7 linked regions of the Homo sapiens genome follow. The protein of the gene in region 2 purifies or fractionates together with the protein of the main gene of each other region. This does not show direct contact. Each region holds a gene or a part of one and is shown on either strand. Other genes may lie near its edges. The genes, in order: MTCH2, OPA3, MRPS6, ETFA, GLUD1, CS and STARD7.

What was found.
Region 1: the proteins of OPA3 (region 2) and MTCH2 purify together in Homo sapiens (affinity purification with mass spectrometry; one large-scale study listed by BioGRID and IntAct). This does not show direct contact.
Region 3: the proteins of OPA3 (region 2) and MRPS6 purify together in Homo sapiens (co-immunoprecipitation; one large-scale study listed by IntAct). This does not show direct contact.
Region 4: the proteins of OPA3 (region 2) and ETFA purify together in Homo sapiens (co-immunoprecipitation; one large-scale study listed by IntAct). This does not show direct contact.
Region 5: the proteins of OPA3 (region 2) and GLUD1 purify together in Homo sapiens (co-immunoprecipitation; one large-scale study listed by IntAct). This does not show direct contact.
Region 6: the proteins of OPA3 (region 2) and CS purify together in Homo sapiens (co-immunoprecipitation; one large-scale study listed by IntAct). This does not show direct contact.
Region 7: the proteins of OPA3 (region 2) and STARD7 purify together in Homo sapiens (affinity purification with mass spectrometry; one large-scale study listed by BioGRID and IntAct). This does not show direct contact.

Annotation. Positions count from the first base shown.
Region 1 is NC_000011.10:47,622,060-47,625,559, forward strand, and holds part of MTCH2 (mitochondrial carrier homolog 2), read right to left. Parts: intron 718-3,500; coding exon 642-717; intron 1-641. UniProt on the Homo sapiens protein: Protein insertase that mediates insertion of transmembrane proteins into the mitochondrial outer membrane. Catalyzes insertion of proteins with alpha-helical transmembrane regions, such as signal-anchored, tail-anchored and multi-pass membrane proteins.
Region 2 is NC_000019.10:45,578,303-45,581,802, forward strand, and holds part of OPA3 (optic atrophy 3 protein), read right to left. Parts: intron 1-3,500. UniProt on the Homo sapiens protein: May play some role in mitochondrial processes.
Region 3 is NC_000021.9:34,122,078-34,125,577, forward strand, and holds part of MRPS6 (small ribosomal subunit protein bS6m), read left to right. Parts: intron 1-3,263; coding exon 3,264-3,403; intron 3,404-3,500.
Region 4 is NC_000015.10:76,290,970-76,294,469, forward strand, and holds part of ETFA (electron transfer flavoprotein subunit alpha, mitochondrial), read right to left. Parts: intron 1,732-3,500; coding exon 1,650-1,731; intron 1,545-1,649; coding exon 1,462-1,544; intron 1-1,461. UniProt on the Homo sapiens protein: Heterodimeric electron transfer flavoprotein that accepts electrons from several mitochondrial dehydrogenases, including acyl-CoA dehydrogenases, glutaryl-CoA and sarcosine dehydrogenase.
Region 5 is NC_000010.11:87,088,344-87,091,843, reverse strand, and holds part of GLUD1 (glutamate dehydrogenase 1, mitochondrial isoform a precursor), read left to right. Parts: intron 1-220; exon of another isoform or gene 221-2,282; intron 2,283-3,500. UniProt on the Homo sapiens protein: Mitochondrial glutamate dehydrogenase that catalyzes the conversion of L-glutamate into alpha-ketoglutarate. Plays a key role in glutamine anaplerosis by producing alpha-ketoglutarate, an important intermediate in the tricarboxylic acid cycle.
Region 6 is NC_000012.12:56,273,765-56,276,330, reverse strand, and holds part of CS (citrate synthase, mitochondrial precursor), read left to right. Parts: intron 1-135; coding exon 136-335; intron 336-1,199; coding exon 1,200-1,329; intron 1,330-1,452; coding exon 1,453-1,554; intron 1,555-2,534; coding exon 2,535-2,566. UniProt on the Homo sapiens protein: Key enzyme of the Krebs tricarboxylic acid cycle which catalyzes the synthesis of citrate from acetyl coenzyme A and oxaloacetate.
Region 7 is NC_000002.12:96,198,828-96,202,327, forward strand, and holds part of STARD7 (stAR-related lipid transfer protein 7, mitochondrial isoform 1 precursor), read right to left. Parts: intron 1-3,500. UniProt on the Homo sapiens protein: May play a protective role in mucosal tissues by preventing exaggerated allergic responses.

The sequences.
Region 1 (3,500 bases), on a different chromosome or scaffold from region 2:
CATCATGTTGCCTCAACTGGTCTCAAACTCCTAGGCTCAAGCAATTTGCCCACCTAGACCTCTCGAAGTGCTAGAATTATAAGCGTGAGCCACTGCACCCAGCCCATTATTTTATTTTCCAATAAAGCTTTGCCTAGATAATAAATAATTTTTTGTTGCAGATTATACACCTCATAGTAATAACAAACCCTAAATTGGTATCTAGGCAAAATCATCCACTAACAAGACTCTAGAAGTATAAGACCAGCTCTGTCAATACCACTGTGACAAATAAGTGGTTATGAAAGGTGAGTTTGGGGGAAAAAAAGAGTCTAAAATCAAGGCCATCATTTTACCAGGATAATAATCTACCTGGATCGTATTTGTAAGTTGAATGTGGGCACTCAAATGGCTTCTAGGTCTCATCTAGGGATTCTTTCTTCTTCATTACTCCTGCTCATGATTTCTAAACATCACATTTTACTATTATGCCAAAGTGAAAACACAGAACACTGTAAAGTGTACATTAACTGGCAGACTAGACTAACTCTAGCTAAAGTGAGCTACAAGAGTTAACTTGGGATTCCAGAGACAATATTTAAGAAAACAAATAAATAAAAATAAAACAAAATAAAATGAGAGAGACAGAGAAAAAGAAATACCTCTTTTTGTAGCATGCACCAACAGTCTATCCAAGACGTATATATTGGGGAGTAAGGAGGGCATCCACCAGCAAGACTAAAATAGAAAAAAACATGGAGCTATTCATGTTAATATTAACCATTCTCTTGAGACGTTGATAAACCTTGTCAAAATATTCTGCTGCACAGAAGATTCCCTGAGAGATCATTTTAGTTCAATGAAACAAATCATATTGAAGCAGGGGAACGATCAAGCATCCAAAAGAGAATTCCTCCCCTATATTTAGGTTTCAAATAAATAAATAAACATAAACTTCAACCTTAATTTCTAAAACATTTAGACTTTTCCTTTGTGGACAAATGAAACTCCAGAACACAGCATTTACATGATTAAAGAGCAGGGAAAGGTGGCCGGGCACGGTGGCTCACACCTGTAATTCCAGCACTTTGGGAGGCCAAGGCAGGTGGATCATTTGAGGTCAGGAGTTCAAGACCAGCCTGGCCAACATGGTGAAACCCCATCTCTACTGAAAATACAAAAACATGAGCTGGCATGGTGGCGCATGCCTGTAATCCCGGCTACTTGGGAGGCTAAGGCATGTGAATTGCTTCAACCCAGGAGGCGGAAGTTGCAGTGAGCCAAGATTGCACTACTGCACTCCAGCCTGGGTGACAGAGTAAGAACCAGTCTTTTTTTAAAAAAAAAAAAAAAAAAAAAGAGCAGGGAAAGGAGATTTAAAAACTAACTGGTGTTCACAAAGATACTAAACATGAAAACGGATATAAACAGTAGATATATATGTTCCTACTTAGGTATAATCACTTCATCTTGAAAAAACTGTAAATAATAATAATACATTTAATTCATCCTTCAAGTTTACACTGTGCTAAAAAATGGCAGTTGCTCTACGTATCAGAAAACATCACAGCTTGCCAGGAGTAACATGAAACAAACAAAACCAGAAAACAAACAATGTAAAATGTTCAAAACTCCACATAGCTATCTGATCTTATTTGAAAACAGTAACATGTTTAATGATATGTCAGGTACCATATGGGAAAAGAATTTTGAATTAAACAAAAAAGGCAAGGCTGGGTGCAGTGGCTCACGCCTGTAATCCCAGCACTTTAGGAGGTCGAGGAGGGTGGACCACTTGAGGTCAGGAGTTCGAGACCAGCCTGGCCAACATGGTGAAACACTGTCTCTACTAGAAATACAGAAATTAGCCGGGGGTGGTGGCAAGTGCCTATAATCCCAGCTACTCTGGAGGCTGAGGCAGGAGAAGTACTTGAACCCAGGAGGTGGAGGATGCAGTGAACCAAGATCGCGCCACCACAATCCAGCCTGAGCAACAGAGCAAGACTCTGTCTCAACAATAACAACAACAAAAAAATACAAAAAATTAGCCAGGCATGCTGGTGGGCACCTGTAATCCCAGCTACTCAGGAGGCTGAGGCAGGAGAATTGCTTGAACCTGGGAGGTGGAGGTTGCAGTGAGTCGAGATTGCACCACTGCACTATAGCCTGGGCAACAGAGTGAGACTCCATCTCAAAAAAAAAAAAAAAAAGGCAAAATTTTGCCCAACTCAGTAGAGTCACTTGGCATCTAGAATTTGGAAATCAATGGAGTCTACCACTATACCAAAACCTGCCCTTCTAACCAATACAGAGAAAAGGTCATCAAACTTTCCATAGACTAAATATCCTAATTCTGGTTCTTTAAAACTCACTTTCTCCATAAAGCCCCTAGGAAAAACAGGTATGGATTGTCATTTAATCCCTGATATACCTTTTGTCACTTTCATAGAAAAGATAAAGATTTAAAATAACAATATGTTGGCTGGGCATGGTGGCTCACCCCTGTAATCCCAGCACTTTAAGAGGCTGAGGAAGGAGAATCACTTGAGCCTAGAAATTTAAGAACAGCCTGGGCAACAAAGTGAGACCCTGTGTCTTCACAAAAAATAATTAGCCAGGCATGGTGGCATGCACATGTACTCCCAACTACTTGGGAAGCTGAGATGGGAGGATCCCTTGAGCTCAGGAGTTCAAGGCTGCAGTGAGCTAGGACTTCACCACCACATTGCAGCCCTATCTCTAAAAAAATTAAAAATAAATAAAAATAGGCCAGGTGCAGTGGCTCACGCCTTTAATTCCAGCGCTTTGGAAGTCCGAGGTAGGCAGATCACCGGAGGTCAGGAGTTCAGGACCAGTCTGGCCAACATAGCAAGACCCCATCTCTACTAAAAATGCAAAAATTAGCCCAGCATGGTGGCACATGCCTGTAATCACAACTTCTTGGGAAGCTGAGGCATGAGAACTGCTTGAATCCAGGAGGTGTCTGTTGCAATGGAGCGAGACTGCACCACTGCACTCCAGCCTGGGTGACAGAGTGAGATTCTGTCTCAAAAAACAAAAACAAAAACAAAAACAAAAACTATAAATAATAATAGTAATTGGCCTGGCATGGTGGTTCATGCCTGTAATCCCAGCACTTTGGGAGACTGAGGCGGGTGGATCACTTGAGGTCAGGAGTTCGAGACCAGCCTGGCCAACATGGTGAAACCCTGTCTCTACCAAAAATACAAAAATATTAGCTGGGCATGGTGGCGAATGCCTGTAATCCCAGCTACTCAGGAGGCTGAGGCGGGACAATCACTTGAATCCAGGAGGTGGAGGTCGCAGTGAGCCGAGATCATGCTACTGCACTCCAGCCTGGGCAACATAGCAAGACTCCATCTCAAAAAAAAAAAAAATAATAATAATAATTAATAAATAAATACAAATTGAGGCTGCTGCTGCATAGGGCATACAAAGAAAAAAATTAGGAATCTTCTAATGGTATCAATTATACTTTTCCTCCCCCCCTTTTTAAAAAA
Region 2 (3,500 bases):
CCTAAGATCAGTGCTTGAGATATTCTGCAGACTCTGCACTTGATGGATCAGCTGGCCCCACCCAGATCAAAAAATTGGCTCATCTGATCTTGTGCCCGCCCTCCCCCTCCCCCACCGCCACCCAGGAACTAACTGAGCACAAGACATCTCTGAATTCCTATGATTTCATCTCTGACCAATCAGCACTCCTGGCTCACTGGCTTCCCCTCACCCACCAAGTTATCCTTAAAAACTCTGCTCCCGGGCCAGGCGTGGTGGCTCATGCCTGTAATCCCAGCACTTTGGGAGGCCAAGGCGGGCAGATCTCCTGACGTTGGGAGTTAGAGACCAGCCTGATCAACATGGAGAAACCCCATCTCTACTTAAAATACAAAATTAGCCGGGCGTGGTGGCGCATGCCTGTAATCCCAGCTACTCGGGAGGCTGAGGCAGGAGAATCACTTGAACCCGGGAGGCGGAAGTTGTGGTGAGCCAAGATCACACCATTGCACTCCAGCCTGGGTGTCGGAGTGCGACTCTGTCTCAAAAAATAAAATAAAATAAAATAAAACAGAACTCTGATATTGTCCTTCTGCTGCACAGAACCCTCCAGTAAGTCCTGTTCCACTCAGAGTAAAGCCAAGGCATTTGCAGTGACCCACAGGCCCCATACAAACTGTCCCCCTTTCCCGTCATCAGTTTCCTCTGTCCTGTGTGCCAGGCACGCTCATGCCTCAGGTCCTGTGTGCATGCGGGATCCTCTGGGCTGGAACGTTTCTTCCCCCAGATGGCAATGCTGCTCGTTCCCTCCCTCCTTGGCATATTTTCAGTGAGTTCTCCCTGACAATCCTATCTAGGCTTATAGCCTTCCTTTAAATACTCCTTGTTCTACAACCCTGATTTTTTTCCTAGAGCAATTATTGCTATCTAATATACTTCATCTTTTAACTATTTTTTGAGATGGAATCTCACTCTGTCACCCAGGCTGGAGTGCAGTGGTGCAATCTCGGCTCACTGCAACCTCTGCCTCTTGGGTTCAAGTGATTCTCCTGCCTAAGCCTCCTAAGTAACTGGGATTACAGGTGCCTGCCACCACACCTGGCTAATTTTTGTATTTTTAGTAGAGATGGGGTTTCACCATGTTGCCCAGGCTGGTCTCAAACTCCTGACCTCAAGTGATGCACCAGCCTCAGCCTCCCAAAGTGCTGGGATTACAGGCATGAGCCACTGGGCCCAGCCAACTATTTATTTCATTTATTGTCTGGCTTCCTCCACAAGAATGTAAGGTACCTGAGGGCAAGATGTTTTGCTTTTTCCTGCCTGTTGTATCTATAACATCTACGTGACAGCCATGACCCTATGCCAGGCACTGACTTAACATTTTATATCCATTTACTTAATCCTCACCACAACACAATAAATATTATTTACAGCATAATGCATACATAGTATATACACAAAATAATAATAATAATAATAATAGTATCTACCTCATCATAACTGGTGAGGACCCAGTGCCAGAGGCTGGAAGGTGCTGCAGACAAGCCGTGGCACAAAGTACAAGCCCAGTTAATGTGACCATTACATAATACCCAATGTACAGAATCGGAAATTGAAGCTAAGAGGGGCTAAATGACGTACCCAAAGTCACCAGTCTGGGTAGGGATTCAAACCTATGTCAGTCTGACTCCAGAAGCCATTTTCTTTCTTTTTTTTTTTCTTTTTTTTTTTTTGATATGGAGTCTCGCTCTGTCACCCAGGCTGGAGTGTAGTGGCACGATCTCGGCTCACTGCAACCTCCGCCTCCCATGTTCAAGTGATTCTTCTGCCTCAGCCTCCCGAGTAGCTGGGATTACAGGCGCGTGCCACCACGCCCAGCTAATTTTTGTATTTTTAGTAGAGAAGGGGTTTCACCATGTTGGTCAGGCAGGTCTTGAAATTTGACTTCGTGATCTGCCCACCTTGGCCTCCCAAAGTGTTGGGATTACAGGCGCGAGCCACTGCACCCGGCCTTTTTTTTTTTTTTTTTGAGACAGAGTTTCACTCTTGTTGCCCAGGCTGGAGTGCAATGGCGTGATCTCGGCTCACTGCAACCTCCACCTCCTGGGTTCAAGCGATTCTCCTGCCTCAGCCTCCCGAGTAGCTGGGATTACAGGCATGCGCCACCACGTCTGGCTAATTTTGTATTTTTAGTAGAGACGGGGTTTCTCCATGTTGGTGAGGCTGGTCTCTAATTCCCGACCTCAGGTGATCTGCCTGCCTCGGCCTCCCAAAGTGCTGGGATTATAGGTGGGAGGCACCGCGCCCAGCACAGAAGCCTATTTATTTATTTATTTATTTATTTATTTATTTATTGAGACAGAGTCTCGCTCTGTCGCCCAAGCTGGAGTGCAGTGGTGTGATCTTGGCTCACTGCAACCTCTGCCTCCCAGGTTCAAGCAATTCTCCTGCCTCAGCCTCCCAAGTAGCTGGGACTACAGGTGTGCGCCACCACACCTGCCTAATTTTGTATTTTGAGTAGAGACAGGGTTTCACCATGTTGGCCAGGCTGGTCTTGAACTCCTGACCTCATGATCCACCCACCTCCGCCTTCCAAAGTGCTGGGATTACAGGCATGAGCCACTGCGCCCAGCTCCAGAAGCCATTTTCTAAACCACAACGCTAAGAATGTCACAGTGTTTGGAAGACAGGCAGAGACAGGAAACAAACTGGGTCTAGGAATTCAGTGTCCAAAGTTTCGCCTCTGGCACAAATCTCTGCGTATGACCTGAGCAATTAACTGCTGCCCTCAACACCTCCATTTTCCCTTCTATAAACCAGAGGAAGTCATTCCTCTTTCCGGACATGGGGACAAAACAGTTGTGGGGGTCAAATGAGATGGCTAACAGGAAAGCACTTTGGTAACTGTGAAATCTAATACTTTCCCATTCTAAGAGCTGCAGCCCCAACAAAGACCCCACCAAACACCGAACAACCAAGAATTCCGGGCCCTGGAAAGCAAACTTTAAGCATCCAAACTTACAGAGGGGGAAAAAAAGTGCACTCCCTTAATCATGTGGGCTTTGTGTGTGCTCCTCCCTCTGCCCCAGTGCTTTCCTTACGCCTTGTCCTGGTGTTGTCCTCACCCTTCAGGTCCCAATTCAGATGTCTCCTCTGCCAGGAAGCCCTCCCTGAACCCCATGCCATGTCAGGTGCCCAGTGGGCTCCCCCATCTCAGCTCTGCCCACTGTTGGGGGATACGTCTGTCCCCCGCAGGACTAGGAATTCCTTGAGGGCACAGATTGGTGCTGGTTTGGTCCCTGCTGTTTCGCCAGCATTGCCAGCACAAGGCCTGGCACAGGGCAGAGGCTCACAAAATACCAGCTAAAGGAAATAATGAATGGATGGAGGGATGAATGGTGTGTAACCGCCCAAGGAGTTCACCTTGCCCGCTGCCTAGACAGAGCTGATTCATCAAGAGAGGAGAACTGCAAGACAAAGAGTAATTCACGCAGAGTTGGCTGTGCGGGAGGGTGTTTTGT
Region 3 (3,500 bases), on a different chromosome or scaffold from region 2:
TAAGGACCTGCCAGCTTCCCTCAGCCCATCACAATATAGAACCAGGGGTTGGCCAGATAGTAAATAGTTTAGGCTCTGGGGCCATGTGGTCTCTTGTAATTACAGATCTACCTTTAGCACAGAAGTAGCCATAGACACTATGCAGATGTGTGAGTTGGCTGTGTTCCAGTTCAACTTTATTTGCAAATACAGGTAGCAAGCCAGATTTGGCCCAAGAGCCCTGGTTTGCCAACCCTGCTTTATGGTGAGGTAAGGTCTATGGGGCGTTATTTTTGCTCCTCCTTCCACCTTTCGTTTTATACTTCTGGGTGTTTTGAAATTAAAGTGAGATGAATGTGGCCATTCCAGTAGTCTACAGTTTGACCTTGACATACTGAAGTCAAACAATTTTTTTTTTTATATTTTCCTAAGTTACATTCTTGTTAGGTAGCCTTTCCCCTTTTTGAGACAGATGTAAGAAGAAAATGTTTTTTACTTTATAAGCTCTTACTTCAGAAGAGGGTAATGAGTTTTATACTGTAAACACTTCAGTTGGAACTTAAAAGATATTGAGATATATTCCTTTTTAATCAGGCAAAACTGGAATTGAAATTTATTTGGGTAGCTAATCAGAAAACTAATCAATCAAATGTTTTTTTCCTTTTTTTTTTTGAGTGCAAAGCTGAGACCCGACTCTTTATTTGGATGGGCTGTTCCTTTACCTTATCATACGTTAATTGATGTAATGCCAGGTCAAGAAACAGCATTTTCAGTTAAATGAAATACTGTGCTGCTGTTAATAATGAGTCCTCTGCAGATGTATGGCGATGTCTTTGTGAACTATAATGAAATGTGAGAAGAATGTAGTCTTCATATGATTAGAACTGTCTAGGAATGTGTTTGATACAATCATAAGGATAAATTGCCTTAGACTTTTTACCTACTGTTAATGGGAAGAGATTTTGGCCTGAATTTTTATTGTCTTCAGGAAATTTCTGTTTTATCTTAAGGTTGGTTAAATATATAAACAACGATTCAGTAGGAATTTTTAAAATCCCTAATGGACTTCAATATGAAAAGAAAGTAAAGAATGTTTTTTTCTAAGCCTTAAGCCAATACTTAGCACATTTCATACCATTTTAGCAGCACTTGTCAGAAAGAAAATTTTAAAAATATAGTGGATTTTGTTTGGTTGCCAGAATGCACACTTAAACTTGTTCTGCAATTTTCTCTTCATTTGATCCCCAAATGAACCTCTGGAAGGTAGCCTATTCTTAAGTTTCCTCCTGCACTTTAAAATCACCCTGCTTGCACCTCTTCACGTAGGTCTTTGAGGAGATGTGCACCTTGTCTTTGCCAAGGTGTGCCTCTGGCTTCCTCCCCGATGGTTTCCACAGCTTTCCTTCTCCTTGCAGCAGGCGTTTCCACTTAATAGCTGCCCTGTCAGCATCTCTCTAGAGATCCCATCCCAAATCTGTAAACCTTCTTGGCTTTTTTTTTTTATGAAGATAAAATATGTAACAATAAGACACTAGACCATATAGTAGTTATCCAGTAAATCATAGCTGTCATCGTTGTTGCTATTTTAGAAATCCTACATTTTATCGTCTTGCATGGTCCGCTCCTTTTTGACTACCAACTTGCCCATGTGTTTTCTCCTAAAACACGTTGCTCAAGTTGCTTGTCCCTGGAGCCCTGGCATTTTCTCCTCCTCACCATTGTTCTCATACCTCTACCATGGGAACCTTGGCAGCCTGCTTTCTGGCCCCATCTTGCCAAATGCCCATGTAGCTACCACACCGCGGCTTTTTCTTGATCTCTGTCCTCTACCCCATTGTCATTCTGGACAAGGCAGTCTCCCGATTTTCCTTGTCCTATTTGATGATACGTTTTATATTTGCTTCTCTGACTTTGAGTCCTCTTGTTAGCCCCTAAATGTTTGTACTCCCCAAGGTTCTGCTGGTGATCTCCTTTCCTCTCCCCCTCCACCCTTTCTATTGATCTCACCTCCTTCTCAGGCTTCAGAGAGCCGTCTGTGCAGGTGACTATGAAATGTGTATTTCTCATCCACCTGCTTTGAGCTTAAGATTTACATCTGGAGAGGTCAACCTAGGGGAGCCATGGCATCTGAGACTCAGCGTGTCTTAAACCAGATTCATCTCTTACTGTCCTCACCAGCTTCTCCAGCTCTCCTTTTAGCTGTAGTGACAGTTGCACTCTCTCAGCCACCAGATTGTGGTGCCCTTCTTCGCCACATCTTGCCTTCATTCTCCACATTGCATTCGTTGCAGTTTTCAGGCTTATCCTTATAAAGTATCTTTTCTTCCAAAAATTGCTTGTGTATACATATGCATAGAGAGATATCTGGAAAGAAATTCACCAGAAAGTTTAATTCACCATCCAGTCTATCTCTGGGTAATGGGATTCTATATTGTTCAAGCTTTTTTTTTTTTTTTTTTAAATAACAGGCCTTGATTACTCATGGACTTGTGCCCAGTGTATACCCGTCTATCTCCTCAGCACTCCCTTGCCCTGAACCCCATCACTGGGGCTCAGTTGCTGGTTCATTCATTCTTTGTACCTCCGGTCATCATTTTCCGGGTGCCTTTCAAGTAAACTTTCCTTAGTGAAACCCTTCTTCCAGCTGAATGTTTCTTCCTTTCGTGAGCCCTCTGGTCTCTATGCTATTTCCTGTATTCTGCCCTCTGCTCTCCATACATGTGTATTTTGTGTTCTGTCCTTTATTAGATTGTAAGCTCCATGAGGGCAGAGTTTGGGTCTGATTACCCATCCTTTCCCCCTTTTGGTTACAGTCTCCCAGTTTTTCTTTGGGAGACAACACCTTTTCCCCCTGGCTACAGTTTTGGTGGGATGGGCAGTTCAGGTGTCCTGCCAACGAGATACTCTTCTCCTGGAATTTGAATTTTGAGTCATGGGATACAAGGACTGACAGTGATTGGCACTGATTCAGCCTGGCCGAGGTGCTCTGAAGAAGCCACTCATTAGTTCCTGCCTCCCAGATCCCTGGAGCTGCCCTGGTCCCTGAACTCTCCGAAGCCTGGTTCTTCAGATATTCCTCGTATCTGTGAGCTATCTCATATCCTTACAATAAATTCTCTCTCTCTTTTATTTTAAGTTAACCAAAACCAGCTTCTGTTGCTTTTACCCAGCGATTCCTACCAGTAGAGCTGTTATGATTGGAACTGAGCAGACTTAATCATTCTAGCTCTTATATTAATTCTGATGCTTTTTTTTCTTTTCTTTAAAAACACAAACAAAAACAGCCAGAGACTGCTGCTACTTTGAAACGTACGATAGAGGCCCTGATGGACAGAGGAGCAATAGTGAGGGACTTGGAAAACCTGGGTGAACGAGCGCTTCCTTATAGGATCTCTGCCCACAGTCAGCAGCACAACAGAGGCGGGTAAGTTTCTTCATGAAGTCTTGAAAGACGTTTTTGATAGGCTCAGTAAAGAGTACTGTTCAATTACTATTAGAAGTTCTTAAAATTTCACATTGAG
Region 4 (3,500 bases), on a different chromosome or scaffold from region 2:
CTTTGGGAGGCTGAAATGAGAGGATGACTTGAGGCCAGGAGTTTAAGACAAGCCCGCACAACATAGGGAGACTACATCGATACAAAAAATTTGAAAATTAGCTGGGCATGGTGGCATGTACCTGTAGTCCTAGCTACTCAGAAGGCTAGGATAGGAGGATCGTTTGAGCCCACAAGTTGGAGGGTATGTTGAGCTACAATCGTGCCACTGCACTCCAGTCTGGGCAACAGAGCTAGGCTGAAGCAGGCAGATCACCTGAGGTCAGGAGTTCGAGACCAGCCTGGTCAACACGGCGAAACCCTGTCTCTACTAAACATACAAAAATTAGCCAGGTGTGGTGGCACGCACCTATAATCCCAGCTACACACGGGAGGCTGAGGCAGGAGAATGGCTTGAACCCAGGAGGTAGAGGTTGCAGTGAGCTGAGATTGTGCTGCTGCACTCCAGCCTGGGCGAGGAAAGTAAGACTCCATCTCGAAAAAAAAAAAAAAAAAAAGTAGGCCAGGCGCGGTGGCTCACGCCTGTAATCCCAGTACTTTGGGGGGCCGAGGCGGGCGGATCACGAGGTCAGGAGATCAAGACCATCCTGGCTAACACAGTGAAACCCCGTCTCTACTAAAAATACAAAAAATTAGCCGGGCGAGCTGGCGGGCGCCTGTAGTCCCAGCTACTCGGGAGGCTGAGGCAGGAGAATGGCGTGAACCCCGGGGGGCGGAGCCTGCAGTGAGCCGAGATGGCGCCACTGCACTCCAACCTGGGCGACAGTGAGACTCCATCTCAAAAAAAAGAAAGTAAAAATAAAGACTAAAAATGACACCTTATTAAGAATGGAACAAAAGAAAAGAGAGCTAAGATAACACCCACGGCCACAGAGAGAGAGCAAGAAAAATCCACTGACGAATTCCTTGTCTTAAGCTCCCATTACACTCCTCCCTCCATTTTTAACTTTATGTAGACTGCTATCCATCTTATAACACACTCATTCTTCAGACACATCACAATGCACATGATCAGATTACAGCTTTCTTTACCTTAAGGATGTCTTCAACCACCACAAGCCCTTTCCAAATTCCCTACGTAGATAAAATTTGGCTTTTCTAGATATCCATCAGCCATCCAAATAAACCATCTCTTAAAATGGGCTACTAATAGAAATGACTCTTGCTCGTTCACTCTCTCTCTCACATGCAAGCAGAATTCAGCATTACTTTTACATGCAGAAAATTTTAAAATAATAGCCTAATTAGAGTTTTCTCCACAACATAATTTGAAAACCTGGAAATGGTAGTTTTAACGGAAAATTATGACAAAATCTTGAAAGAATAAATTTTAGCAAAACTACCACATCAATTCAGATAAATCCAGATTGGCTACATAAACAGTCTGTTGCATACTTTCAGCACAATGAAATCTAACCCTTTCAAGCAGTGATATCAGATTCCACATTCTCAACCTTCTCACCTTTCCGAAGGCAGATGCTCCAGCACAGATGTGTGTGTAATTGAACTGCTTCTGAGTTGCCAAAATCAATGGTGTCAGTTCCTCTGAGAATTAAACACATTTGATAAAAAAATATTTTGAAATACTTTCATATTCATATATTCAAGCGTAATTTAGACACTACATTTTTTTCTACTGGAAAACCTCACCTGGAAGTAGGCCTTTGTACACATCATGCTGAGCCACCAGAACTTTTGCTATGCCTGCTACTTTACAGAGATCTTGTGCCACCTATGATTAAAAGATAAGTTCCTAATTATCCATCTATCAGAAATATACAAATAAAGCCACCACTATAAATATCAACAGATCATAAAATCTTAATGGCCAACTGTAAAAATTATTCTTATTAGCAAAAGGGCCAGTTAAGAATTAAAATATATTCCGGCCGGGCGCAGTGGCTCAAGCCTGTAATCCCAGCACTCTGAGAGGCTGAGGCAGGCAGATCACCGGAGTCAAGAGTTCAAGACCAGCCTGGCCAACATGGTGAAACCCCATCTCTACTAAAAATACAAAAATTAGCTAGGCATGGTGGCGGGCACCTGTAATCCCAGCTACTTGGGAGACTGAGGCAAGAGAATGGCTTGAACCCAGGAGGCGGAGGTTACAGTGAGCCAAGATCACACCACTTCACTCCAGACTGGGCGAAAGAGTGAAACTCCATCTCAAACAAACAAAGAATTAAAATATTAAAATACATTCCTTAACAAAGAAAATCTAATGCCAATAGATCTTACTACTGACTGACCTTACACTGTCCAACTACCAAGCATTTCAACAAAAATTCCTGCCTTGAAAAAGAAAAGTGCTAATTGACAAACCAAAATCAACATGGCTCTTTATTCAAATTTTGTTATAAATTGTGCTTTTTACTTTTGGTTCAATCCAAGTGTAAGTTCAATGTCCTGGAAATGGTGAAAATGAAGTTCTCTAGTAACATCCCATTGTCAACCACTGAGTTCCTGCCCACATACACATATTTATCTATGACAAAGCAAAATATTTCCTATTTTAATTCTTCATTTTTCCTGTTTGGAATTAGAATGGGGTTCTGAGAAAGCTTTTTGATGATTCAGATTTTCTATATTCAGAAGGCAATTAGATTTCCCCTTTTTAAGTATCTTTATTACCTCATGGCTGGTTTCCACTTTAGCTAAGTCATATCAGTCATACTATCGTCTTCTGTCTCCTTGTTTACCTCCAAACTGATTCATTGATTCACTGATGAGTAGGATTAAAAGGCTGTGCCTTGTGCCACCCTCATATGAACTGTTAGCTTGCAACAATATTCACTGAAGAAAGGATGCAGTGCAAGAATACATTCTCTGCTAAACCAAGTGTTCACCGGCATACCATTTGTACTACAGAGGCCCTTTATTATGGATGCAGCTGCATTTAGCTTCTCAAACTTTAAGAGAATTTCCAATTAAGAAACTCAGTTAATTGCAATGTAGCTGCATAGCAGCATGGGATAGAAAATGGGGCAGAATTTTCCCATTGAAACTATCTTGTTTTTACTGGCAAAACGGCTGGCATTATACAGAAGAATAACTTGCTGTTTATGACAAGTAGCTGAATAAAATGGTATAAAACCGAACTCTATTAAACGATCTCTTCATACAGGTACTGGTTGTTTTCTTTAAAATTAGAACATGACAGGTTAGGATTGTAACTGAGTACAGAAGACGATTTCTATTTTGATTTTTCTCAAAGTAGTATAAAGTATCAAAGTCTTTTTAAAGTAATATTACAATAATTATTTTAAATCACAGCAAAACAAACAACAAATCACAAATTCCTATATATCCAAAAACAGGGAAACCAAAAAGATAGCTTAGCCATCATATACTGTGGCTAATACAGACATACAAATAGATAGCTTAGCCATCACACATCACACATTGTGGCTGTATCAACTATGTAAGATCCTACAGTTGTTAGCAGGAATTGGGTAAAGAAATCCACATAACTAATCATAAACCCACCAGAATATGTTCTTT
Region 5 (3,500 bases), on a different chromosome or scaffold from region 2:
CACCCTTTTACCAACCTTCAGCTTTCTGTATCTCATTTTCCCTCAAGAACAACCTTATCCCTGAGTTTTCTAAATTAAAATTCTTGAGGTTGAAGCAAAGCAACAATCTAGCAATAATCTCTAAGGGAAACAGATGGTTATAAGACTTGGTGGCTGATGTGTACTTTTTCCAAGTAAATATTTAATAATACACACTGTTTTTGTGCTTTTCTTTTCCCAGTTACTACATGTACCTGAGGCCGTTAGATTTGTCTGTGTTAAGGATTTGAAAGGGTAAGCTAAAGGATCTGAAGGGAAGTTTAAGTGAGGCCTTAAAAATATTTCCAGCAAAGGGGCATAGTGTGAGAATATGCGACTGATTTGAGAAGACTGGTTCAAAAGTTCTGGTGGGTTTGGAAATATTATCAAAGATTGTTCTATTAACTTTCCCAGAGTAAATTATCTGTATTTCATTTGCTATGGTTCTGCCTGAGACCAGTCTACCTTTTTAGAAGGAAGTTTATTGTTTTAAAGTCAGTTTGGAGGGAAAGTACAGATTGATAATAGCAATTTATTGATGGTAGGAGTCAATTAACTTTCTCTTCCAGTCTGCCCCCCCCCAGTTGTCTTGATATTAAAACTATTAAAATTCCCTATCACTGATGCTACTATCATAAAATTTTCTAAAATTATCATAATTTACATATAGTTGATGGACCGTAGATGGAGTTCTCTCATACATTGACCCTAAGTCTTTTAATTACAAATATTAGTACCCAAAAAAGTGTACCCTATATTAATCCAGTAACTAGTTTTTAAAAGTCAAAATGCCAGAAGGAAACAGTGGAATCTTGATGACATAATGCAAGGGAAGACCGGAGTCAATGCAGTGTTAAAGACGCCCTCAGCCTCTGGGATGTCATTGTTTAGCGCTTAAGGGAAGACTATAGAAAGCACTGATACTGATTTAAAATGAGATATTTCTCTGCCTTCACTGGGGGAAAAAATGTTTCTGACTTATTTTGCTGTGCTCAATTGACAACCATCAAAACTTAGGTAACTTTTAATAAACTCACAGTTTCTAATATTTTTAAGTGGCTGTGTGTCTGCATCTGCTGCCACAGATAAAATATAACCTTTGTAGGTGAATTTAATTTAGGACTTTTCTGAAAGTTCAGTCAGAGGATAGGTAATTTGTGTGTCTTTTAAAAGCACTTAGCCCCGAGGTTGTTGTTTTTAATACATCTTATTTAAATACGGAAATGTGTTGCCCTTATGCCTTTTTATTTCATGGAAGCCAAATGCGTCTTTTCTCCCAAAGTATACTAGAAAATGAAGACGCTTGGTAATGGTAGTGATCTGTACATCAGATTTCAGTCTTTCTGTCACTTGCGTGTATGAATCCATTTAGCAAGTTTGCTTTTGGCAGTAAAGCCCCACGTGCAGGAAGACAAACAGCTGCTCACTCATTATCCAAAGTATACTTTGTAAGAATTAGGGCATCAAAAATTGGATCCTAAGCACCAATATATATTAAAGTTCAGTACAACTTGTAGTGTTTAAGTACAAGAAATAAAAATTGAGCCTGAACTTTTGGCATATAGTGGGAAGAAATTAGGTTTACCGCTGTTAATAATTCAGAGTGCTTAGGAAAATCGGTTTTTATTTACTTATGTTAAAAATACTAAGGGTTCTGTAACCATTAAAAACTAAAATACTAACCTGTAGATGTTGAAAAAATCCTAGACACTAGTCTCTGCCACGTGACTGTTCTTCTTTTCTATTTATTTTACCCAATAATTAGGCTTTTACAATGTAAGTAATAAAGAGAAAAATCTCTAGTATCACTTTAGAGCACATTGATTCATAAATAGCCCATAAATTTTGTACTCAGCAACCCATAAAATACACATGCATGATTCACATAATCAAATAGTAACGAAAGTTACAAAATGAAAAGTGAAGCAGCTCTACCCCAAGTCCTTCCCCCAATATAACCATGAACAGTCTTAAATCTAATGCCGCTGTCTAAAACTGACTAGTTATTCAAATGAATCAATATTTTCCCCTTTCCAGAGGCAGAAATTAATACAGATTCAAGTGTTCACTATCAAGTCGGAATTGTTAATATGTGAAATACTACTGTTAAAGGCAGGAAAGGCTTTATTAAGGACAAGAAGACAAACTAGGAGAAGGAGCTACTCAAGACCTTCCGATTATCTTTACAAAAAGGCAACTACACCTAGAAGATTCTGCAGCCACACACATTCTGCCTTCACTTGAGGTCAACTGCCTTCACCAAGGTCAGATATTAGCAAAGGCTAACATTTATTCAGCTCTGTGTGTGCCAGGCATTTTATTAAGAACTTTTCATGCATCATCAGTTCTATGCCTTATAGCAACAATGCATGTAAGAACTTTTCATGTATCATTGCTTTTATGCCTCATGCAATACACTGTTGTCCCTGATTTCCAAATGTGGCTACTAAGGTTGAGGAGTGAAGTGTCCTTTGGCAGGGTGACACAGCTAGTACGTAGTGGAGTTGAGGTTCAGATTCTGGGCATCTGATTCCAGCACCCACCTTAATCATTGTTGTCTGGGATTTATTTATGCAAAAAGTTACAAATTGTATCTTAGGCTTTTAATTGTAAGCGCTGATTGAGAACCACTTCATGCCATTGACACAATGCTTCCTAATACTTTGGATCATAGATACCTTTGAAATTTCTGTTAAAAGCTATTAGAAGACCTACCTTCTTCCTAGAAAAATACATATTCAAACAGCTTTGCATATAAAACTCAGCATAGATGATATCTCTAGAGGTCCATTTATTCTAATTGCTAAGGAAATGAAATAACCTTTTTCCCCTACACCCAACTCCGAAGACCTGAAATAACATTTTAAACAGTTTTCCATCAAAAGAGGTTTGAAGACTTTGGTGTTTAAGAGATTAATGTGTTAGCCAGAACAACTCATTTCTCTACCAGTGTGTAGTCCATTTATCTTTAAAGATTTTCTATTGAATAATTTTGAAATTACTTTCTTAGTTTTCTTCATTAAAAACTAAGAAAATGCTTTGTTTATTATGAATTGCTATTTCTCTTGATTATTATTCTTGGAGAAAGTCTATCAGACGTAATTCTTCTGATTTGCTTCTAGGCTAGAGGAAAATGTGAAAGATGACAAATGAAAATTTCAAAGGTTGTCAGTAGTATGACTTCTTTTATCGTTTGTCATTATCACAAATATATCAACATAGGACTTTTAAAAGATATTTTGTACATATTGGGCCTTAGTAGGATTTTGCATGAATTTTTTTTTTCTTTTATGCCAAGAGAGAAAGAGCAAAGAAATAACCAAGGGTGATGTACTCGTATTGAAGGTTTACCAAATAAGGACTGCTTTTATTATGAACTATAGTCTATATTCTAAGTAAATCAATTTTTCTATTATGTGTTTTTTGTTCCTGCAGGCAAGATCTCTGAACTTTATGCAGAGGGTTCTTTTAAAAAAACAAAG
Region 6 (2,566 bases), on a different chromosome or scaffold from region 2:
ATATATAACAACCCATCATATAACTAACCATCAACCCAAATAGCCCCAATTCATGGAGGACAGACGATATCCCTGCCTAATTCTTCTTTGCTGATAATTCCTTTTTTTTTCTCCATCTTGCTCCTCTTCTGTCAGTTGATTTATGAAGACTCTATGGATCTAATCGCAAAGCTACCTTGTGTTGCAGCAAAGATCTACCGAAATCTCTACAGAGAAGGCAGCGGTATTGGGGCCATTGACTCTAACCTGGACTGGTCTCACAATTTCACCAACATGTTAGGCTATACTGATCATCAGTTCACTGAGCTCACGCGCCTGTACCTCACCATCCACAGGTAAGCTAGACCCAGCAACCACAGCCACTAGGTGCCTCAATTGGTGGGAAATTTTTTTAAAAGCTCCTTTATGTTCTCATCTTCTGAGAACAGATGATAGGCAGCAAGAAGACAGAAACGTGGCATAAAGGATGATCCAAGGCAAGAAAGGGGTCTAGTAAGCAAGGTCAGGAGGCCTAAAGAAATTACTGTAACCATGCTAAGAACAAGATGGTGCTTCTGGCTGGGAAAAGGTACTAGCTGCTCACATTAGATGGTCCTTCAGCTTTCCAGGAGCTCGCTCTTTGGGGCCATTGCTATTAAAGCTAGGTTGGAGTCATGGAGCAGAGCATACAGGCATCATCAACCAGTAACCTCTCCAGCTCTGTGGATGAGTGAACAAAAGCTGGTAATGAGATTAGGATGCTTTTTTTTTTTTTTTTTTTTAGATGGAGTCTTGCTCTGTCGCCAGGTTGGAGTGCAATGGCGCAATCTTGGCTCACTGCAACCTGCACCTCCAGGTTCAAGTGATTCTGCTGCCTCAGCCTCCCAAGTAGCTAGGACTACAGATGTGTGCCACCATGCCCAGCTAATTTTTGTATTTTTAGCAGAGACGGGGTTTCACCATGTTGGCCAGGATGGTCTTGATCTCTTGACCTCATGATCCACCCGCCTTGGCCTCCCAAAGTGCTAGGATTATAGGCGTGAGCCACTGTGCCTGGCCAAGATTAGGATGTCTTTTACAAGAGTTTAGGTATAACTGACTGGCTATAGGCTGGCATGAGCCCATAACTAGGCTAGTAAGTGGCAAATAAGAGAACAGCAAAGTTTCCATAATCTGCCCCTTCTTTCTTCCCTTGGCTCTCCCTTCTTACTTCCCCACAGTGACCATGAGGGTGGCAATGTAAGTGCCCATACCAGCCATTTGGTGGGCAGTGCCCTTTCCGACCCTTACCTGTCCTTTGCAGCAGCCATGAACGGGCTGGCAGGGCCTCTCCATGGACTGGCAAATCAGGTAAGACTATTCTTTTTATTTTCCTGCTACATGTTTTCCTTACCCCATGCTTTGTTTCTGATCTTGGCATTCTCTTCTGGCATATGTATTAACATTCCCTTTTTCCCCAAACCTTACCCATAGGAAGTGCTTGTCTGGCTAACACAGCTGCAGAAGGAAGTTGGCAAAGATGTGTCAGATGAGAAGTTACGAGACTACATCTGGAACACACTCAACTCAGGACGGGTAAGCAGAGATGCTTAACGACTAGGAAAGAAACCAAGACACAAGTTCTGCAATTTGGAAGAATTAAGAAAAGAATGAAAGAGGTCCCTAAATTAGAGATTTTTTTTTCTTCATTTATCTACCTTGAAGAATTTAGAAAAGAATTTCTAGGTGGGCACAATGGCATGCACCTGTAGTCCCACCTACTTGGGAGGCTGAGGCAAGAGGATTGCTTGAGGCCAGGAGTTTAAGGCTGCAGTGTGCTAAGATCACTCCTGTGAATAGCCACTACACTCCAGCCAGGACAACACAGCAAGACCCCATTCTCTAAAAAACAGTTTTAAATAGGTTGAGTGTGGTGGCTCACGCTTATAATCTTAGCACTTTGGGAGTCCAGGGTGGATGGATCTCGTGAGCCCAGGAGTTTGAGACCAGCCTGAGCAACACAGACCCTATCTTTTTTTTTTTTTTTTTTTTAAAGACAGTCTTGCTCTTGTTGCCCAGGCTAGAATGCAGTGGCGCAACCTCAGTTCACTGCAACCTCCGCCTCTCGGGTTCAAGTGATTCTCCTGCCTCATCCTCTCGAGTAGCTGGGATTACAGGCATGCGCCACCATGCCCGGCTAATTTTGTATTTTTAGTAGAGACGGGGTTTCTCCGAGTTGGTCAGTTGGTCAGGCTAGTCTAGGACTCCCAACCTCAGGTGATCTGCCCACCTCAGCCTCCCAAAGTGCTGGGATTACAGGCATGAGCCACCGCACACGGCCAGACCCCATCTTTACCAAAAAAAAAAAAAAAAAAGCCAGATGTGTTGGTGTGCACCTGTGGTCCCAGCTACTCTGGAGGCTGAAGTGGGAGAATTGCCTGAGCCTGGGAGGTCGAGGCTGCCGTGAGATGTGATCATGCCACTGCACTCCAGCCTGGGTGACAGAGTGAGATCCTGTCTCGAAAAATAAAAGAATTTCTACTGAGAATACTATCTTTTTTCCTCACTCTTTACAGGTTGTTCCAGGCTATGGCCATGCAGTACTAAG
Region 7 (3,500 bases), on a different chromosome or scaffold from region 2:
TCTTTACCCCATTTCAAGTTAATGTTTGTGTATGATAATGAGGTAGGAGTCTAAACTCATTCTTTTGCATCTGCTTCTCCAGGTGACCCAGTGTCATTTGTCGAAAAGCCTATTCCTTCCCCAGTGAACTATCCTGGCATCCTTGTTGAAAACTGACCAAAAATGTAAAGGTTTATTTCTAGACTCTCAATTTTATTCTAACAATCTAGATGTCTATCCTTATGCCAGTACCACAATGTCATTACTGTAGCTTTGTAATAAGTTTTGAAATTGGGAACAGTGAGTCCTCCAAACTTTGTTCTCTTTTTTCAAGACTGTTTTTGCTATTCTGAGTTCCTTTCATTTCCATATGACTATCAGAAGTGGCTTGCCAATTTCTGCAGAACTGCCTAGGATTTTGATAAAGACTACACTGAATTTGTAGATCACTTTAAGTGGTATTGCCATCTTAGCAATATTAAGTGTTCTAATCTAATCCATGAACACGGGATGTCTTTCACTTATGTCTTTTTAAATTTCTTCCAATGATGTTTTGTTGTTTTTAGTGTTACAGTTTTAGTTGTACACTTGTTAATTTATTCGTATGTATTTATTCCTTTTATGCTACTGTAAATGAAATTGTTAATTTTATTTTCAGATTCATTGTTAGTGTACATAAACATGACTTCCGTGTATTGATCTTGTATCCTGCAAACTTGATGAACTCATTTATCAGCTCTAATTGCTTTCTGTAGATTCCTTACTATTTTCTAAATATAAGATCATGTCAGCTGCAAATAGAGATAGTTTTATTTCTTCTTTCCAATCTAAATGACTTTCATTTCCTTATGTTGCCTGATTTCATTGGTTATGACCTCCAGTACAATGTTGAACAGAAATGGTGAGAGCAGAATCCTCATCTTGTTCCTGATCTTAGGAGAAAAGCACTAAGTCTTTTGCCATTAACTACACTGTTAGCTATGTTTTTTGTAGATGCCTTTTATCAGCTGCAAGAAATTTCCTTCTATTCCCAGTCTGCTGAGTGTTTTCTTTTTTAATCACAAAAGGAGGCTGGAATTTGTCAAATACTTTTTGTGTTTATTCAGATGATCACGCAGTTTTTGTCCTTTTTTCTATTAATATGGTGTAATAAATTGATTTTTGTATGAAGAACCGACCTTGCCGTTCCTTAAATAAATCCTACTTTTCATGGCATATAATCCATTTCATATATTGCTGAGTTCAGTTTGTTAGTATTTTGTTCAGGACTGCGAAAAGTTGTGTGGTTTTTTTTTGTTTGTTCTGAGCCCAGGCTAGAGTGCAGTGGCATAATCACAGCTCACTACAGCCTTAACTCCCCAAGCTCAGGTGATTCTCCCACTTCAGCTTCCCAAGTAGCTGGGACTACAGACAAGCACCACCACATGCAGCTAATTTGTTTTCTGTATTTTTAGTAGAGATGGGGTTGCACCATGTTGCCCAGGCTGGTGTTGAACTCCTGGCCTCAAGTGATCCACTAGCCTGGGCCTCCCAAAGTGCTGGGATTCCAGGCGGGACTCACCGGCTGCAAAAAGTTTTAAAACATGAAAAACACCACCATATATTGTACTATGTATCACTATGTATCATTCAGGGGTATATACATATGTATAAAAACATAGGGAATTATATACAACAAATTGGGATAATGGTGACATCTTGGGGAAAAATAAGAATACAACTGGAAAAAGGTACAGAGGAACCCTAAGTATACTTGTAATATCTTATTTCTTAACATAGCTGTACTTGCAACGCTCGTGTTATTATTTAAACCTTTTTTATATATCTGAAACATTTTATAATAATAATTTTTTAAAACTTGGCTTGTATTTTTCCCATAACCTCTTCTTTTTTGAGACAAAGTCTCACTATGTCGCCGAAACTGGCCTCAAATTCCTGGGCTTAAGAGATCCTTTCACTTCAGCCTCCCAAGTAGCTGGCACAATAGGCGTGTGCTACCATACCCAGCTTCTCCGTGCCCTCCACCTCACCCTACCCCCTGCAACATTTAAAGAAAGGTTACAGATAAGAAACAAAAATTGCTGGCTGGCTGTCTTATACACTCTATTGCAATTCAAGACTGAAGAAGACCCAAATTACTGCTACACTGTCTGAAATGCCTTTTCACCCTTCAAGCTTCAAAAAACCACAAAGGTAACTGCTAGGCAGAGTTAACCATACACACTGATTTTTATTCCTTTACACAGGCATATTACACTATAATTAATCTATCTTTATATCTGCTTTCCTTACTAAACTATAAATTCCTTAATAGCCCAGAATCAGTCTTTTTCATATTTGTAGTTCCAGCTCCTAGCATGTCCTGGTAAACATTACATGTCCTGGTAAACATTACATACATTACATGAATAAATTTAGTAAATCAAGAAATAATAAAATGAAAATAGGCCTCAGTAATCCAAATTTTTATTAAAAGATTGCATTAAGGCCTGGGGCAGTGGTTCACGCCTATAATCCTCAGCATTTTGGGAGGCTAAGGTGAGCAGATCACTTGAGCCCAGGACTTCAAGACCAGCCTGGGCAACATGCAAAACTCCACCTCTAAAAAAAAAAAAAAAAAATTACACAACAAATAGCTGGGCGTAGTGGCATGCAGCTGTAGTCCCAGCTACTGAGGAGGCAGAGGTGGGAGAATCACCTGAGCCCTGGAGGTCGGGACTGTAGCGAGCCAAAATCATGCCACTGCACTCCAGCCTGGCAACAGAGTAAGACTCTTAAAAAAAAAAAAAAATTGGCCAGGTGCAACGGCTCACACCTGTAATCCCAGCACTACAAAAAAAAATTAGCCAGGCATGGTGGCCTGCGCCTGTAATCCCAGCTACTCAGCAGGCTGAGGCACAAGAATCTGTTGAACCCAGGAGATGGAGGTTGCAGTGAGTTGAGATCGTGCCACTGCACTCCAGCCTGGGTGAGAGTGAAACTGTCTCAAAAATATATATATATTGCATTAATATATTGCTGCAAAAGCCAAAAATTCAAAGGTATAGTGTCAATCCAAGATTAAAAGTTTAGAGCAATTCAAAATAATGGTAAGTCTAAAGATTTGTGTTCTAGTCCTGGCTCTACAGCTGACCAGCTGTGTGATCTTATTTTATTTTACCTTTAAAGTGAGGACGTTATTTCTTGAAGTCCTATTAGTTCTAAAATTGAATTTGCTGAATTTTAAGCTTTGGACTTGGATGAAAATATTTATATAGGGGAATATTTGTCATTTTGACTGCCTGAAATCCCTTTCTATTTGGAAAGAACCCAAATAGGTGAATGCAGCCCCCCTCCCGCCCACAAGCAGTTAAAGCACAGCTCCTAATTTAAGTGAGGTTAGAGACTTCTAGAAGGGGCTTTGCATCTTGAAGATAACACAAAGGCACAGGATCTTGAGGGAGCTGGGAGTCCAGGAGTACAACCAATCTGGGGGAAAGAATGCCAGCAACACTGCTCTAAGTAGATTATTCCTGCTGCAG